Linked DNA regions of Homo sapiens. The protein of the gene in region 1 interacts with the protein of each later gene in a pairwise test. Each region holds a gene or a part of one and is shown on either strand. Other genes may lie near its edges.

Evidence for each region.
Region 2: the proteins of FSAF1 (region 1) and RBM33 interact in a two-hybrid assay, tested with the Homo sapiens proteins (one large-scale study listed by BioGRID).

What each region holds. Positions count from the first base shown.
Region 1 is NC_000001.11:231,234,555-231,238,335, reverse strand, and holds part of FSAF1 (40S small subunit processome assembly factor 1), read left to right. Parts: intron 1-3,781.
Region 2 is NC_000007.14:155,741,950-155,745,660, reverse strand, and holds part of RBM33 (RNA-binding protein 33), read right to left. Parts: coding exon 3,555-3,711; intron 701-3,554; coding exon 59-700; intron 1-58. UniProt on the Homo sapiens protein: RNA reader protein, which recognizes and binds specific RNAs, thereby regulating RNA metabolic processes, such as mRNA export, mRNA stability and/or translation.

The DNA of each region.
Region 1 (3,781 bases):
CTTGCTCTCGAGGAAAAGCAATGCTGGTGGAAAAGCAATTTGATTTTTCTGAGCAGTAATCTTTTTCAGAGTGAGCTTGTAAATCTCACCTAAAATTCAGTCCCCAAGGGAGGTGTGGTTGCTCCTCCAAATGTTTTTAATTTTTTTTTTTTTTGAGACGGAGTCTCGTTCTGTTGCCCAGGCTGGAGTGCAGTGGCACGATCTTAGCTCATTGCAAGCTCCACCTCCCAGGTTCATGCCATTCTTCTGCCTCAGCCTCCCAAGTAACTGGGACTACAGGTGCCTGCCACCACGCCTGGCTAGTTTTTTGTATTTTTAGTAGAGTCAGGGTTTCACCATGTTAGCCAGGATGGTCTTGATCTCCCGACCTCGTGATCTGCCCGCCTTGGCTTCCCCAAATGCTGGGACTACAGGCGTGAGCCACTGCGCCTGGCCCCAAATGTTTTTAATTTATCTATTCACAAGAATATCATAATGGCTTTGACAAATTCATTGCTATTCCATTTCTGTAACATCCCCCACGTCCTGCAAACCTTTGTCTATCAACAAAGAAGTGAGGATTGAACGTATTAGTTTCTAAGCCTGCTATAACAAATTACCACAAACATGGTGACTTAAACCAACAGAAATGTATTCTCTTACAGTTCCGTAGTCCAGAAGTCCAAAATCAAAGTGTTGGCAGGGCCATGCTCCCTCTGAGGGCTTTGGGGGAGAATCCTTTGCCTCTGACCAGAAGGTAGCTCTAACAGTTTCCTTGGCTTGTGGTTGCATAACTATAATCTCTGCCTCCGTCTTAATGTGGTTTTCATCCCTGTGTCCCTGAGTCTCATGTTTCCCTCTGCCTTCCTCTTTGCTTTAGGCCCACCCTGAATCTGGGATGATCTCCTTTTGAGATGTTTAATTATAAAGATCCCTCTCCAAGTAAGATCACATTCACAGGTTCTGAAGAGGAGTAGGACATGGCCATATGTTTTTAGAGGCCACAATTCTACCCACTACGAAGATGGTTTGGCTTGCATTGTTCTTTATGAATGTATAAATGTATGTTAGTGTCCAGTGTTTGCCACATCTTTATGGTTTTAAAAACCATCTGTATAATCTTTTCTAAAATTCAGGTAGCATTTCATATCAAGCTTGCTGGCATCTCTTCCTCAAAGATCGTTAGCGCATTCTGCAGGCTGAGCGTGGTGGCTCACGCCAGTAATCCGAGCACTTTGGGATGCCAAGGCCAGAGGATTGCTTGACTTCAGGAAGTCGAGACTGCAGTGGGCTGTGATTGTGTCACTGCACTCCAGCGGGGGTGACAGAGCGAGACCCTTTCTCCAAAAAAAAAAAAAAAGATTATTAGTGAATCTGTAACCATGTCTACCTTTATTTTAGGATTCTAGATAAGCTTCTTAACTCTTATGTTCCAAATATAAGGCTCTGGGAACTGTTACGGGAGGGTCAAGAAATGGATTCCCTTGGTGTTTGGGGCAACCAGAGCCCCGAAGCTGGCCATCTCCCAGTACCCCAGTGTACCCTACAAATACTGGTATTTTCTGTATGTGTCATGATATGAAAAATGTTGGTGAGCACTGCTTTGCAATATAATTCAGCATTTGAAGACTTCAACTAACATAAAGCATTTAGGCACCCTTTCTTGTTTCTTCAAATGTCTCAGACTTCAGTTTCCTCTTATATTCCCTCATGTTCTTTTTTCTGGAATGGAAAGTTTTCTTTTTAATAGAAAAGACAGAAGAGTTGGGATTGAATGAGTCTGCATTTCCCTGTTGCTTAATAATAGAACATCTGTGGCAGTCTGTCAAATTGTCTTTTGCTTCCCGTTCCAAGCGAGCCCTGATGCATTCTAGTTGGCTCTTCTCAGGAGCCTCAGCTCACTCTACGTTTTGAACTTCCTGACCTTAATGAAAATTTTCATTTGTCATTGCTGCTCTCTGCCCTTTCCTCTTGTTTTTTTTTTAAATGTGTCCTTTGAAAATGTGAGTGTGTCTGGTTAAGGAAACAGAATGTGGACACATTAAAAACACATACACCTGTAAAATGACCTCAGAATGTTGACATTGCGGTGTGGAAATAAATACACATGAATATAATGCTAGTTCTTATGGCATATCCTGGGTATGCCAAGTTAAAGGGTAGTCAGCCAACTGGTGCTAATTGGAATACACCAGCTGTGCTGAGTTTGTGTAACATGGGAAAGTATAGTTGTGCCCTTGTTCTCTAAAAACTTCTAAGCCATTGTAGGACAGTTAAACAGACATGGGTGGCAAAAATATATGATGGGTAATGGTAATCTCCATGACCAATCATAGCATCAGCTGGTCATTTTTAGAGAATGCTTGAGAAAGGAAGAAGGGGATGGTGAGTTGGACAACAATCCAGCTGGCCCTGCCTAGACCCAGGAAATTACCCTATTTTTCCAGAACTTGTGCTATAAATTCTATGATTAAGCTGCATCGTGCATTGAAGCAGGTTTTCATGGGGTCATCTCGGAACTTGGCCACCATTTATATATATTTTTTTATGTTTAGAGACAGGGTGTCACTCTGTCACTCCTGCTGGAATGCAGTGGTGTGATCATAGCTCACTGCAGCCTCCAATTCCTGGGCCCAAGCCATCCTCCTGCCTCAGCCTCCCAAGTAGCTAAGACTATAGGGCACACCACTATGCCTGGCTCATTTTAAAATTTTTTGTAGAGTTGGGGTCTTGTTTTGTTGCCCAGGCTTGGTCTTGAACCACTGATCTCAAGAAGTCCTTTTGCCGCAGCCTCCCAAAGCACTGGGATTACAGGTGTGAGAGCCACTGTGCCCAGCCATCATGTCCCTTTTTTTTTTTTTGAGATGGAGTCTTGCCCTGTCACCAGGCTGGAGTGCAGTGGCCTGATCTCAGCTCACTACAACCTCCGCCTCCCGGGTTCAAGCGATTCTCCTCCCTCAGCCTCCTGAGTAGCTGGGACTACAGGTGCACACAACCATGCCCAGCTAACTTTTGTATTTTTAGTAGAGATGGGGTTTCACCATGTTGGCCAGGATGGTCTCGATCTTGACCTCGTGATCTGCCCTCCTTGGCCTCCCAAAGTGCTAGGATTACAGACGTGAGCCACTGCGTCCGGCCCATGTCCCATTTTTAATGTAGTGACTATACAAGTAATTTGGCTGGAAATAGTATGGGATCACATATTCATTCCTCCATTTATTCCACCAATCACTGGGTGCCTGCTGTCTGCAGACCTTGCAGATGGAGCAGTGAAGAAGATAATAGTGCTTTGCCTTTATGGAGTATACTGTACAATCTACTTTGGAGTTGAGCAATATAATTAGAAAGAATTATAAACAAATAGGGTCCTGGAGTACCATGCAGAACCTGGTCTAGATGTAGTGGTCAGGGAGGTCTCTCAGGAGGTAACATTCAGGCTAATGCTGTATTAAATGGTGCTGGTGAATGGGGCAGGGAAGAGTGAGCCAAGGAGGGAGAAAACAGCCTTGCTAACATTGTGGGGTATGAAGAGGCCTGGTGTGTTCAAGGAGCTGGAAGAAGTCTAGCAAGACTAGGACAGAAGGGAGAATGGTTGGTGCTAATACAAGAGAGACAGGCTGAGACCAGCCCTTGCCAGGTCTCATAGGCAGTAGTGAGCCTTGGGACTTTAGTCTTAAGTACATGAGAAGCCACCAAAGAATTTCATGCAAGGGCATGAGGTAATCTGATTTAAATTTTAAAACGATCACTGTAGCTCCTATGTGGTGAATCGATTATAAGGGAGCAATAGCAAGAGGCATGA
Region 2 (3,711 bases), on another chromosome or scaffold:
AGGACATTCTATGTGATACACAGACTCAAAGAGGCTCTCATAAAACTTGTCAACTTACCCCACCTGACAGCTTAATCACCCTGACCTTGGAGCTGATGTGGGGCCCGTCTCCACCACCACTGTTTGTCCTGTGCGTGACAGTCCTTTTCACGCCAGGCTTTGTGTCCTGGGGCCGGCCCTGGATGGACGCCACTCGAGGAGTCTGGGGGACAGCTGGCTCCTCCACATCTGCAGGTTTGATCGGGAGCACTTTATGCAGCGGCTGAGTCTGACTTTGAGGAACTGTTCTGGTCTGTCTCAAATGTTTCAGTGCTTTCATCTGTTGTCCTTGATACTGCATGTTGGCACTGGATGGTACAAAATTGGATGTTTTGGGCTGAACGTTTGAAATACTGACATCCTGGTTTTTAACAAGAAGTCTGTTCTTCACATTTTGTCTGACCTGTGCACCTGGAAAGGGCAACAGTGGGTTACCGTTGGTGGGTGATGGTGACAGTGCCTGCTCTTCCTGCTCTGCTGGGGGTGGGGGAGCGTACAGCTGCTGCTGTTGCTGCGCGAGTCTCTCCAGCAGCTCCTTCTTCCTGGCACCAGCCTGCTGCTGCCGCCGTAACTCCTTCTGTTTCAGGATTTCTTCTCTTAGGCGTTTCTGTTCTTCTATCTTTAAGCGATATAACCTTGTTTCCTCATCTTCATCAGGAAACTAAAATGGAAAACATACACGGTTTACTTTGCTATACAGGCAAGGTGCCCATAGTCTATTTCAACAAATTACAAGAACACATTTACCACAAGTCCTTTAATTCAGTATCTGAAAGAAGTCACTCAAAATCTGTTTGAAGACTTTAAGTATAACTCCTTCCTCTGGGGAGGGGGAAAAAAACCACACAGCTAAAGCTAATTTGGAAAATCTTATCAGAATATTAAAAATGAAATAATGTAAATTTCCACTCATTTACAAGTTTGAAACCAATTAAACTATTCATTTAAGATATCAAAATATGTTTCAAACAGGAATGGCAGCAGTAGGGAGGCCTGCTGTCACACAGGTTTTATCTGGCTCTTCTCTGACAAACCAACAAAAGGTGGGGTGTAAATGACCTGAAAGGCTCTGATTAGAACTATTGATTTTTCGTGCAGAATTTTCAGCCTGATCTCAAACTCATTTGTCACAGAATAATTGGTTATAATGAACAGCACAAGTCAATCTCTCTGACCTTGAACTCATGCACTCTCCTCAGAATCAAAATGTTGCCGATTGCAGTATTGGAATATTAATGGTATATAAGGAACGCCTTTAATATTCCAAGTTCCAAACCATTCTTCAAGTCGATACAAAAAAATCTTTGAAAAACTCCAGTAACTTTCAATAAAAAGCATCCAATAGGGAAAATGTATAAAAAGTTAAGCATTTTTAAAGAATTGTAATAATATTCTTTAAAAATCATCCATATCCACAGACTCCGTGTAAAATAATGTAACAGGATTTAATCTATCTAGAATTCAGCTATTTCACCATCTTACTTTCCCTAAATAAACCTTAAGAATTAGGAACTTAAGACAAAAGCACAGCTGAGGAGTCGGCTGGTGCCCTGGAGCTTGAGTGCCCGGTGCCAGCCCTCACTCAGGGATTACTTGTCGTCCTGGAAGCAATTCCGACCACCTCTGTTCTCTAATATCACATCTAGGGCAGATTTCAAACTGCAAAAATGAAGGTGGGTGAGAGGCTGTTTACAAGGGTAGGCATACAGAGCAAGACATGGCGTCCAGGGGGATAGTGGGCACAAGGGACATGGGCATCGGGGAAGCAGACGGCTGGGGACATATTCACAGGACCCAAGGGGCCACTGCCTCAAAACACAGGAATAATTACTAGTCATCGGAATTTCCCATGCAGTCAAGGAAGAGTTAAAGCATGTTCAGAACAGCAGCTGAAATACTTGAAAAGACCTCCAAATAAGCAGATTCACCCTTTATTATATCATCATCAAGAGGGGTGAACATACGAAAATAAGTCACATTTAGCTAAGCAAAACAAATAGAAGATCTTTCTTCTAAAAAGTAAAAAAATATATATAATCCTGGTCCCCTTTATATAGAGAGAGAAAATTAAAAGAAAATAAATCAAGACATTCCATTTATACTACGGTGACCTACAGGTTCCATTTCACTCAAGGCATCTTTTTGAAATAACTCCATGGAAGAATCCTTTAGAAGTTCGCCTAAATCAACTATCATGGAAGGAAGTGATCGCCAGATGTGCCAGCAGGATGCCTGAAAGGCAACTTCCCCTATTAGGTAGCCCTGTTATTATGAATGTGTGACTTCATTTTTCTGAACCAAATCAGTTACACATACTGAGTTAGGAGCTGGCTATATACACTAGAAGTATGATAAAACTTTTACCAAAGACTTCTTTCTAAACTATTCCGATCCAGTTTGTAAATCTACATTATTTTTTCACATATTGATTTTAAAACCAAAAGTCACTCGTGTTCTAATAAGAGTTCATTGTATGTTAATATTTCAACTTTGTACTTCCAATTTGGTAAACAATACATTACAACTGCTACAATAATATATCAGAAGAAAATCTAACTGAAAAAAATGAACTGATTAAAAGGTAAAACCAGTGTTGACTGGTTTTTATGAAACTAAGAAAGCATGACTTGCCTAAATTCTTCTCTAAAGCCATTCTTCATGACATTGCTATTGGACAAGTTAACTCGCTGCACTGCTTCAGAGCACTCCACATGCATTTCACTAAGGCTGACACGCCCTCCAGGTGCCAGCCTTCTGCACAGGCCGCCCTGGCCGACCCTCCTTTACCAGATGAGGAGACTGAGGCTTGTGGGAGAAGACGGCCTCAACTAAAGCCAGGTAAAGACTGAGCTGCATTGATTGTTCACACTCACTACATTCTGTGCCTACTGAAAAATTAGGAACAACAGCAACAACATATATCATCATACTTCAACACAAAGCAAACCCCCAGAAATCTTAAAAGACCAACAAGAAAATTGGTCCTATCTTCTAGAGGTTAATAGTGTAAATCAAGAAAAGTCACAGAAACCTACGGGATTCACCAGGTGTCAGCACATGACACCCCACAGGCTGAGTCCGGTCCACCACCTGGTTTTATAAAGTAAAGTTTTACCGGAACGCAGTCACATCTATTCATGGAAGAACTATATTTAAATTGCCTTTGTGCTAAAATGGCGGAGAAGGGTAATTATGACAGTCTGGACTATAAAGTCTAAAATATTTATAAAATATTTGGGCCCTTTACAGAAAAAGTTTGTTAAGCCCCGGTATATATCAATTCTGTATAACAGAACAGTAACTGTACAAATATATAAACTCTAATCTTGTAAACTAGTGAGAATACAAGTGTTTTTTTAATAAACATGGCTGTTAGGTTAAAAAAAAAAAAAGACCCAGGTGAAAAAAGTGGGAAGATTTTGTGAATAACTTAGTGAGAGTGAACTAAGACATCCAAGTTGATTCTAAGGCTTCTTGTTTGAGACCAACATTTGTTAATAAGAGCAGTGTCCTACCTCTGTTTCTGTTTTTGCCTCTTCTTTAGGTTGAGCCACAGGGCTAGCTGGCTTGACTTTCACTTCCGTCTTTCCCTGTGAGCTTCTGGAACCCGCCACGGCCCGCGAGGGTGGTGACGCGCTGACGATAGGTTTCACTTGTGCTGAGGGCGTGGCA